Linked DNA regions of Homo sapiens. The protein of the gene in region 3 interacts with the protein of the main gene of each other region in a pairwise test. Each region holds a gene or a part of one and is shown on either strand. Other genes may lie near its edges.

Region 1 (3,655 bases), about 24 Mb from region 3:
ACATTATACACCAAGACAAACACCAAATGAATCAAGACTTGAGTATATAGATATAGATATAGATATAGATGATATAGATATAGATATAGATATATAGATATATATGAAATACTTGAAGAAAACATGAGCTTCCCTTTAAAACTCTGAGGTAAGAAAGAACTTTTTATTCATGGCTCAAAATGCAGAAGACATAAAATTAAAGATTGACAGATCCAAAATCTACATATTGAAAAGAAAAAGCAATGAAAATAACTGAGTAAAAAGTACTTCTGTGTATAACAAAAAGCTCATTTTCTCCAAAATAATATTGAGCTCTTAGAGATCACTAAATATAAGACCAAATAATCCAATTTTTTAAATAGACAAAGATTATGAACAAACAGTTCACAAAATGTAAATACAAAAGGCCCTTTAACATATGGAAAGTTAAAAATTCCAACAAGGTATCACTTTTCATCTTTCACAATGGCAAAATGCTCTTAGAGAGCATTTTGGGAATACCTAACCACGTACATTTGCCCTTTGACCCAGAATCCCATTTCTGGGGATTTAATAGATATATCTGCACACATTATGAAAATGTCTTATATACATAGTGGTTCAAATCAAAAGACTGAAAAATCACAAATATCCATCAGTAGAGGATTGGTTAAATGAATTTTAGTAATCCTACAATAGGATATTATACAGCCATTAAAATATCATCACAAAGAAAGCCTCCTCATATGGGAAGATCTGACAGATACGTTGTTTAAAGAAAAAAAGCAAGGTACAGAATATAGTGTTATTTATGCTATCTTTTGTATTTGTATTTGAATAAAGAAATTCGATGAAAACTAATATAACTACTTATTTGCATTCAAAACAGGAAAAGGAGCTACTAATAGAAAGCAAAAATGATGAAGGAATGTGAACCAGACTTTTCATTGTATACCTTTTTACAGTATTTTGATTTTTTAACCATGTGTATGCACTATCTATTCAAAGGAAATGTACATATATATAGACTATTATATAGAGAGATATATAGATACATATAAAGAGACTATATATACACATATATACATATCTCTCTCTGTATATATAAAGAAACCATGCTACACACCTAGAAATTAATCATTGTATAGCATCTAAGGGATAAAGTCAGCTATAAGCAAGTCTGCTAAACTGTCAAACGAAGATATAGGATATTCAAATGGTTTCACATTCCACTATAAATAGTGTCCTATTTGTAGCACAGAACACCTCCATCTGTAGTAAAAGGTTTCATTTCACCATTAATTTTCGCTATAATATCTTTATTATTTAAATCCTTATATTAATTTTAGACATTCTCTAGGCCTCTGAAACAAAATATCTATACCATTTAACTAATTCTCACCCAGTATGTAAACCAGTGGCCTTCATTTAGCCCTTTTGCACTGTACATGTTTATATTTTCAAAGTTTTCCCCCCAATTGTTAATCTCTAAATTTTAAAGATAAATTCCATCTGTTAATCAAATCCAAATAAAATATACTAAAGAAACCAAACACTGCTTCTCAAAATTTAACGGCCATACAAATCATTTTGGAGTCTTGTTAAAATGTACATTCTTATCCAGTACTCTGGCGTGGGACTCAGGATTCTGCATTTGTAATAGTTTCCCAGAGGAACTGATACTACCTGCCTTTAAAATAAGCTGAGTAAGTTAGCAGAGTGGCATAACAAAAGCGTGCTAAGCCCATAAAACACACTGAATTAGTAAAGCTCTAAAAGAGACTACTGAAAGTTCTTTCAATTCACTTGAGTTGGGTTACATTCAATACTATTTGAAACAAATCAACCAGTGACCAGCACTGGAAAGTTTTTCTTTCATAAAGATTCACTATAACAGTGTTCCTCACCCCACTTTGACCTTTAGATACATTCTTTTGGCTATCTTCTGACTACATCACTCCCCTTTTAAAATGTTTCAATGGTTCCCCAATGCCCTGCTTTCCATTAATTTTTTACCACTGTTCTTAAAATATTCACTAAGTAGAAGGGTTCTCAGATACTAGATTTGTTAGCAGTGTATATTTAATATCACCTCTATCTATTCCATAAGGTTATTATAAGAAACAAAAGATAATATATGATAAAACACCGCAAAAATACAAAGTACTACATAATTAATTACAAGGTATCTCCCACATTGCGGCAAACAAAGGATACCACATCCATAATGGTCTAGAAAATTCTGCATGAGACTTTATGGAATGTATATATAATTAAGTACCTTATAATGTTTTTTTATAGAAGGCAATATATTGTTTATAAGAAACTAAAACAAGTTTCAAACTAAGAACTGTTCCTTTTCTATCCCCTATTCCTTCTTATGTTTATATTTGTATTCAGCATCTAAATTGCGGTTTTCTATTTGTATAAAATGTTATAGTGGAGAAAGTGACCTTATTTTCAGAGAAAAAGATTTCTTTTTACAGCAATTCAAAACATTATTCTTTGTTTCCCCCTAAATATATTCAAATTGTGACTGGAAAAAAAAAAGGCTAAATATGTAAATACGCATTAGTTATCAGGGAAACACAAATCAAAACCGCAATGATATACCATTTCACACTCATTAGAATGGTTAGAATTAGAAAGTCGGATTATGGCCAGTGCTGGCCAGGATGTGGAGAAATTGAAACCCTCGAACACTGCTAATAAGAATGTAAAATAGTACAGCCACTTTGGAAAATAGTCTAATAGTTCCTTAAGCTGTTACCACATGACCCAGGAATTCAACTCCTGAGTATATGCCAAGACAGATGAAAACATATGTCCACGCAAAAACCTGTACCCAAATGTTCATAGAGGCATTATTCATAGCAGCAAAAAGGTATCTATGGGGTTCAGAACACATTACCCCATATGTGTTCTGGCATCCTGACATTTGAAAAAATGGCAGAAGCAGGAAAGTCTTTCTGACCTTGCCCTCACCCTTCTCCCCTGAACCAGGCCATAAAAGGATTATCTGACCTTCCTTTAAAGTAAGTCATAAAACCTTTATTACAGAGGTCCCTACCCTATACACAAAGGAAAATAAGTGTCCTTATCTCTGAAGACACAGAGACACAAAAATCTGAACAAACAGGCCTTACTACGTTTCCTCCAGTTTATTGTCATTAGATCATATCCTTTTTTCCTCCTATCATACTTCGGTATGACTGTCCAGAAAAATAGTTTTCCCTGTTTCTTTGGGTCTTCATTTCTAAATATTCCTGTGTCGGCTGGGTGCAGTGGCTCACACCTATAATCCCAGCACTTCCCAGGTGGGTAGATCACGAAGTCAGATCCAGACCATCCTGGCTAACACGGTGAAACCCCATCTCTACTAAAAATACAAAAAATTATCCGGGCGTGGTGGCAGGCGCCTGTAGTCCCAGCTACTTGGGAGGCTGAGGCAGGAAGATCCTTTGAACCCGGGAGGCGGAGCTTGCAGTGAGCCAAGATCACGCCACTACACTCCAGCCTGGGCGACAGAGCCAGACTCCATCTCAAAAAAAAAAAAAAAAAAAAAGTTTCCTGTGTCAGTAAAATGTACGTTAAAATAAATTTGAATGATTTTCTCTTGTTAATCTGTCTTTTTTATAGGTGCCTCAACCAGGGAAATAGCAATGGGTAAGGAAAA
Region 2 (3,655 bases), on a different chromosome or scaffold from region 3:
GCTGGGACTACAGGCACACACTACCGCATGTGCTAAGCTTATCTGCAAAATACAAAAATGACTACTTCACATTTCATTTCTTCAGGAGGATGCTCTAAGAACCAACTAAATGTATGTATATCATTTGGCTTACTTGAAGAAAAGGCACCACATTAATATAAAGGACAATACCAAGGCAAAGAAAAGTTCCAAGGTCTAGTTGCTTTCTATACTCCCTTAATGCCAAACTTTACGACTTAACTTGTTAGGGATGGTGGCCCTTTTTACAAATATTTCCAAAAAAGAAAGGCTAAACACACTCACAAATTGTAAACAAGGTTGCCATGTTCTCCTTGTTTGAATTGGAGTCTTCCATTTGCAGTGAAGGTGATACAAAAGAAAGACTGTCTGAAGATACATCTACATGACCTGTCCCCATAGCAACCTCCTGGGTGATGGAGGAGACAGCCACAGGTTCTAGGCTGAGGCCAACTTCATGGAGGGAAACAGATTCTAGGGAGGCAAGGTTGTGTGAGGTAGAGAGTGCCACGCTTACAGAGTTGGTGCTCATGGCCACAGTGTGAATGGAGTCACTGAGGGCACTGTCAGACATGCCATTGACCCGACTTGCAATGTGGTCTGTCTCCATGACCACAGGGAGCTCCAGGCCATTCCCATGCATGGGTATCACACCACCATGTCCTACAGCGTCTGCTGCAAGGTTGTTGCTCACAGAATCCACAGACAGAGGTTCATGACTTCTGGAGCCATTTGGGATTTGGGAATGCTCGCCTGCAACACCGTCCATCGTAAGCTCCTCTGCCATTCCATCTGTCGAAATTGGGCTGGTAACCCTAGAAACGTTCTCCATAGTGATTGCTGTGTCCAAGGCCACCTCATGGCCATCACTGGGATGAAGACTTTGGGCACCATGTGTGTTCACAGAGCGAGAGTCTATTGAAACAATGCCTGGTTCTAATCCAACATTTCCATTGGACTGATAGGGATCTAGTGCTGAAGGGTTATTGGTGATAGATAATGCTGTATTACCATCAACATTTATAGAGTTAGGGTGGATGTACTGTGGAGGTGGTCTGTCAGCTAAATAAGATAAAATGCCTGAGAAAAGGAAAAGATGAGATATCAGAGACTTTTAGTACATTATTAAAGAATTCCAAGCACTAGACGCTATTTCCTTACAAACATAACTAAGTTCAAATAATCTCCTGCTTCTTTAATTTAATCGATACACACTATTTTATAAATAGCAACATACATATACCGTAATTGAGTTTTTCCTGTAAAACTCGAAAATCCTAAAAAAGTTAACTATGTTCCTTTGAAGCTAACTGGGAATCACTAACGAAAACACTGCTTTTAATATACATATGGTTGCAATTCCTGAGTCCTAAGGTGTAAAATTTGCTCTCCTAATTATTAAAAGGTAAAATGATTTAAAAACAGATCTTCCATGTGAAAAATAAAACTTAATTAAATATAATTTAATATAATTAAACTATCATAACACAAACTATTTAATACAAGTCACAATTGTACCTGTTTTATTAAAACAAAAAAAAATTAACACTTGTGCTTGGGAGGATATGGTGAAATGATACTTACTAAACTGCCAGAGGGAATGTAAACTGCTAAAACTTCTTTGTGAAGCATATATATTAGGAGCCTCAAAAATGTTAATACCCTCTTGCACAAGAAATTCCACTTAAGGTACTCTTCTCTAAATCCATTTTGTAAATATTATACATAAAGACGTTCATAAGAGCATTAGTTACAATGGTAATAAAAACTGGAAAAACCAAACTGTCCAACAATAAAGATAATAAACCATCAAATACCCATTCAGTAGAAAGTAATGCATCATTAAAAAGGATAATTATGAAAACCACGTAGCAGCAAAGGAAAATACCCATGTAACAGCAGAGAAAAAGATAAAGTGAAAAAAGTAAAGACAGACAATCGTATAGAAAGTATGGTCTTGGGCAGGGCACAGTGGCTCATGCCTGTAATCCCGGCACTTTGGGATGCTGACGTGGGCGGATGGCTTCAGCGCAGGAGTTCGAGACCAGCCTCGGCAACATGCCAAAACCCCATCTCTTTTTTTAAAAAAGTTATTTATAAAAAAGAAATGAAATATGGTATGGTCTCAAGGCAGGCATGTGCCTGTATTCCAAGCTACTCAAGAGTCTGAGGTGAGAGAATCACTGGAGTCCAGGAGTTCCAGTCCAGCCTGGGCAAAATAGTTGAGACTCCGTCTCCATTAAAAGAAAAAAAAAAAAAAGAAAAGAAAAAAGAGAGCAAGAGAAGAAACCGTGGTCTTAATTATGAAAATTGGTAAAAACCTATACACCAAAACAAATGGCAGGAAGGAAGTACACCAAAAAGATGGATGATGGGACTGAGTGGTTCCTTCCCTTATTTGCTAAATTTTCCGCAATAAGCATATAATACTCCTATAACAGAATAAAAATTCAATGAACTTAAAAAACATGACACTATAACAAGACACTATAGTGCTTGACTGAAATTATAGCTGTAGAATTATAAACACCAAATGAAAGAGATACTGGAGGAGAAAGAAGAAAAATTATGTGCAATTAAGAAATTCAGCTTAGTCAAACTGTATTACTAATGTGTTATGTGCCACATTCTAAGAGGAAAAGTACATAAATATAAACAAAGATACTTTTCCTGCCTAGAGATTAATATCTAATAGTGACAAACAGAAAAAAGTGTTATTCATATCTTCAGGATAAAAGTTTAAAAGCTGGCGCCGTTCTTTTTCTCTAACATCTCAAGTAACTGTAACACTTACCAGGTAGAATGGTTCTGAAATAACTGCTCTCCAGGTGAGGGTAAGGTGGTGGAGGTAGGGTGTAGTTTCTTTCAGGTAACCCACACATCACCCCTCGATCCCCAATACCCATTGGTAGCATTAAAGACAGAGCAGAAGGCAGAGAGCTCAGGGAGGGACCCAGGTTTGGAATTGCCACTGGGAGGCCTACAAAACAAAATTTTTTTTCTCAGTTAAAAGAAAATAGGTAATTAAAAATTCTCACTACAACCACTGGCTAAACTCTTAGAAAGGTTTTTACACATGGGCAAAAATCTCACCTACTAGCCCTTTTCATCCTTAGATAATGTGCAAATATCCACAAATAAGCCTAAAGAAAGTAGTCTTAGTCCCAAAGATAGTTTTTAAGTTAGTTCTAAACCGGCAAGTTGATACTCCAATTGTCTGTATTGCGCTTAAATACAAAAATATTTAATTAATTAATTTATCGATTGATTTGAGACGGAGTCTTGCTTTGTTGCCCAGGCTGGAGTGCAGTGGTGTGATCTCAGCTCACTGCAATCTCGGCCTCCTGGGTTCAAGCAATTCTCCTACCTCAGCCTCCTGAGTAGCTGGGATTACAGGCACACACCACCACACCCAGCTAATTTTTGTATTTTTGCTAGAGACAGGGTTTCACCATGTTGGCCAGGCTGGTCTCGAACTCCTGGCCTCAAGTGATCTGCCCACCTCAGCCTCCCAAAGTGCGGGGATTGCCACCATGCCCAGCCAAAATATTTAATTTAGAATTAAAAACCGAGTTTAAATACAAGAAAACAAATTATATAGAGAAAAAAACAATGGAAACATAAAATGTTCATAGGA
Region 3 (3,655 bases):
GGTGAAACCCAGGAATCTGTATTTTAAGATCTCCCTGAGAGACGCATACTGCTGGTCTACAGATTGATGTTTGGACATGGCAGATAATTAAGTAATAACAACAAAGTTTGATGCATATCATGATAGGCAGGGGTTGTGTGGTGAGCTCTGAGAATGTGGAGGAGGTAGTATACAGAAACACAGAGAAGTAGAATGTAGAGGAGTCACAGAAACTCAGCACTAGAAAAAACCCTGGAATTTGTGTCATTCAATCTCACAGATACAGAAACTGAGGCCCAGACCCAGAGAGAAGACAAAGCCAGAGCCAATAATAGATAACCATTACCAGACATATGAATATACTGTTTGTCAGTTGCGAAATAGCTCTATGGAGATGAAGTTTGAGATGAATGGTGGAAACACAGAAGGTAAAATAGATGACAAAGATAATGAACAAATGGGTAAATAGTTCTTATTGTTAGGAAGAACATATAACTAATAGAAAATCGGAAATATAAATTAGCCAGTTTTGGGGAGGCAGTTTAATGAGAGCAGACAGAAGTATATGGCTAGATGTAAAACAGCTACGGGGTGGGACAGATTAGAGAGCTCTGGAGACAGATACAGATATTAACAGTAGAAATGCATGGCAGGGGGGCTGTTGGGGGTGACTGATGCTTGACAAATAGCTGATAGCTGGAAATGACAGGTAAGCTTGCCTGGTAAGTACCAAGAGGCGGATAGAGAAGTAGCTAATTATATAGCCTGGCTCCGTATGATAAGTTATGAGGGCAACAGAAAGGCAATGTTGATGACGGAAACTGCATAAGGGAGGAAGAACGCTGGACTAAGAGGACACACAGGTTTGGATCTTCTTATGCTACTAATCTGACATACTACCTTAAAGGGAAGGGACTAGGGATGGGGATTAATATTATTTGAGCTCATATGAGGTACCTTTAATCATTAAACAACTATTTTCTCAATGAGGAAACCAGAGCTCAGAGAGGTTAAGTGACTTGCCCAGGGTTACACAGTAAGTTAGCAGGGAGGCAGGTATTTAAAATCGTGTTTGCCCACCTGGGAAGCTCTGTCCAAACCATCTCTCCATCTCAGGGTCTTCACCTGGAAGGACAGGCTGCCACGGCAGGTTCCCCAGGCTCAAACCTCCCCTCATTCTTTTTGTTGTACCATATGCAAAAAGCAGCTCATTTACAGACGGGAAGAAGATTAGCCCTGAGTTTTGATAGTTAATGAAGCAGGATACGTTTATGTTATTCTATCTGGTTTTGTTTTAAATATATGTTTGAAATGTCTCATAATAAAAATGAAAGAAACAATCAGTCCGTTTACTAACTGGCATTGTTAGGAGCAAATATTGACAGGCAGCTAGGTTCAGTTTGAAAGAGAGTTAATTAAAAATGCTCTCACTGAGCTAAAAAATTGAAAGTTTAAAAACAATGACATTATTTCAACAAGTGTTAATCTGTGGGTGGTAGGATTAAAAACCATTTTTGTTTTCTTACAGTTCTGCAATTAAAATTTAATAAATATTACTGTTTAAATGAAGTTAATTATAAACACCATTCTTAAACTGACACCTTGTTTCAAACAATAATTTTAAAACACTGCCAGGAGGGAAAAGGGAGTGTTATTTTATTAACTTATTTTTAAAAACACATCTTTCTTTGAAACGTTTTTAAAATTAACTCTTGTTTTGTAAGCTTTTTCCCTGCAGTTAGAACAGCCCAGCTAGTACATCTGAAAACGCACGGGTCCTGCCTCCGACCCGTGAGCGATTTGTAGATTAAGTGGGGCAGCAGACAGATATGACGACAATAGATGCCAAAATGCCACTGAAGGAGGAGAGGGTAAGGTCCGCCGAAGAAAGCTGCGGATGAAGTTTGGGTCTGGGCTCCCTCACTAAGCCCCCTTCCTACTCTGGCTGCTAAAGGGAGGCTCCGGCTGCCCCCCATGCCGGGCATCTTCTCACTGCCCGGGACTTGGGAGGGGACGGTGGTGTAGTAGGGTCGAGACTAGGAGGAAAGGGGAGCGGAAGGTGAAAAGTCAGCCGGGAGGTAGCTGGGAGACCGCGGAGCCGGCCTCTCGCAACTCTGGGAGCCGGCCGGCACGCAGAGACTGAAATCCACCTCCAGGGCAGCAGCTAGGCTGAGGGTCGCTGAGCCCCACTCCAACACGTCGGACCTGGGTGGACCAAGAGCTTATGCAGTGATCCCAGGCAGCATTTATTTATGGCAAAGTCTACTTACAATGAACCCAAATCCACCTCCCTATAACTTTCATCTAATTCTTTAATTTTTTCCCTTAAATTAACGATCAGTTACAAAAACACTACACGGTAATTGTTAATTTCACTCAGTTCAAGCCCAGGCGCCGTTGGAGTTTATTCCTTCTCCCATTCGACAGCCTTTCCAGTGATTCAGAGAAGCACCTGAGTACCCGGGGTCTATTTCCCACCAGGCCCAGGCCACTCAGATGCTCTGCGCGCGCACACCGTGGCTTCCACAGCCCTATCAGCCGGCCTGGGCCGGATCAGAGCAACCCTCGGGCCCCAAGCAGGGGCTGGCCCCTCCCTGGTTAAGCCCCTCTGTTGGTAGTCTGAGGACACCTGGGCTTTCTCCCCAGACGCTCCTGGCTGGTGGGCAGCCAAGGCCCCGCCAGTTTTGCCCAGGAACAGCAGCAAAGCCAGTGCGGACCGGCTCCCCGCAGGACTATGAGCGCCCCGACACAGTGGCGGGAAAAGGGCTGCAGGAATGCCAGGGCTGGAGCCAGCTCCAGTGGCCTCGGTGCTGCCTGCGCTGCCCGCTCCCGAGGCGACCCGCTTCCTCCAGGGAACCTGGTCCCCCCGTGAGGAGCTTTGGGAGCCGGGCTCGGGATACAGTTTGCATTTACTCTGCCTCCTGCTAGGTCTTTAGCGCTTGACAAAAGTCCTGCGGGCTCAGCAGGCTGCACGCAGTCTCGAGGAAGAGGCTCTAAAGACGGGCTTGACCGCAGCGCCGCGGGGAATGGGGGCCTTTTGGAACCCAGCAGGGCTGGGCTGGGGCGGGCTCAGGGCCTCTCCTGCACCCGCGCACCCTCACCTCCACCCGGGCTCCGGGCGCAGGGCAGGCCGCGACCGGGGGTGATTACCTGCGTCTCGGAGAGGCTGAGACTGCCGGCCAGCTGCTTCCGCTCGGCGCCCACCACGTAGTGGTTCTTCTCGAAGGCGCGCTCCAGCCGCAGCAGCTGCGAGGGCGAGAAGGCCGTGCGGATCCGCTTGGGCTTGCGTGCGAAGGGGCCGTGCAGAAGCAGCCCGTCCTGGGGCACGTCGCTGGCTGCGGCCCCGCCGCCGACGGCAACACACGCAGGTACAGACAGAGAGAAGGGGCGCCGTGAGCCGGGGCCCAACAGAGCCTGGCCTCGCGCCCTGCTCCCAAGCGCCCTGCCCTCTCCATTCCTTGACACGCACACACACGCCATTTCTCCCTTTGCCCTTTTGCCGCCCCTTCCCTAAGTCCACTCCCCTCCGCAACACCTCCCCGCACTCGAGAGCCACTCCGCGGGGGAACGCGGGGAATAACAGCTCTCCAGATCCCTCTGTTAAGCCAAGAGATGGGGCAGGCCGGACGAGGCGTGGACCCACATTCACAATGCCTGGGGCAGCGGAAGAGGCCAA

The links.
Region 1: the proteins of EMX1 (region 3) and GTF2A1L interact in a two-hybrid assay, tested with the Homo sapiens proteins (one large-scale study listed by BioGRID and IntAct).
Region 2: the proteins of EMX1 (region 3) and PRDM4 interact in a two-hybrid assay, tested with the Homo sapiens proteins (one large-scale study listed by BioGRID and IntAct).

Annotation. Positions count from the first base shown.
Region 1 is NC_000002.12:48,673,249-48,676,903, reverse strand, and holds part of GTF2A1L (TFIIA-alpha and beta-like factor), read right to left. Parts: intron 1-3,655. UniProt on the Homo sapiens protein: May function as a testis specific transcription factor. Binds DNA in conjunction with GTF2A2 and TBP (the TATA-binding protein) and together with GTF2A2, allows mRNA transcription.
Region 2 is NC_000012.12:107,751,112-107,754,766, forward strand, and holds part of PRDM4 (PR domain zinc finger protein 4), read right to left. Parts: intron 2,999-3,655; coding exon 2,813-2,998; intron 1,099-2,812; coding exon 304-1,098; intron 1-303. UniProt on the Homo sapiens protein: May function as a transcription factor involved in cell differentiation.
Region 3 is NC_000002.12:72,923,968-72,927,622, reverse strand, and holds part of EMX1 (homeobox protein EMX1), read right to left. Parts: intron 3,315-3,655; coding exon 3,130-3,314; intron 1-3,129. UniProt on the Homo sapiens protein: Transcription factor, which in cooperation with EMX2, acts to generate the boundary between the roof and archipallium in the developing brain. May function in combinations with OTX1/2 to specify cell fates in the developing central nervous system.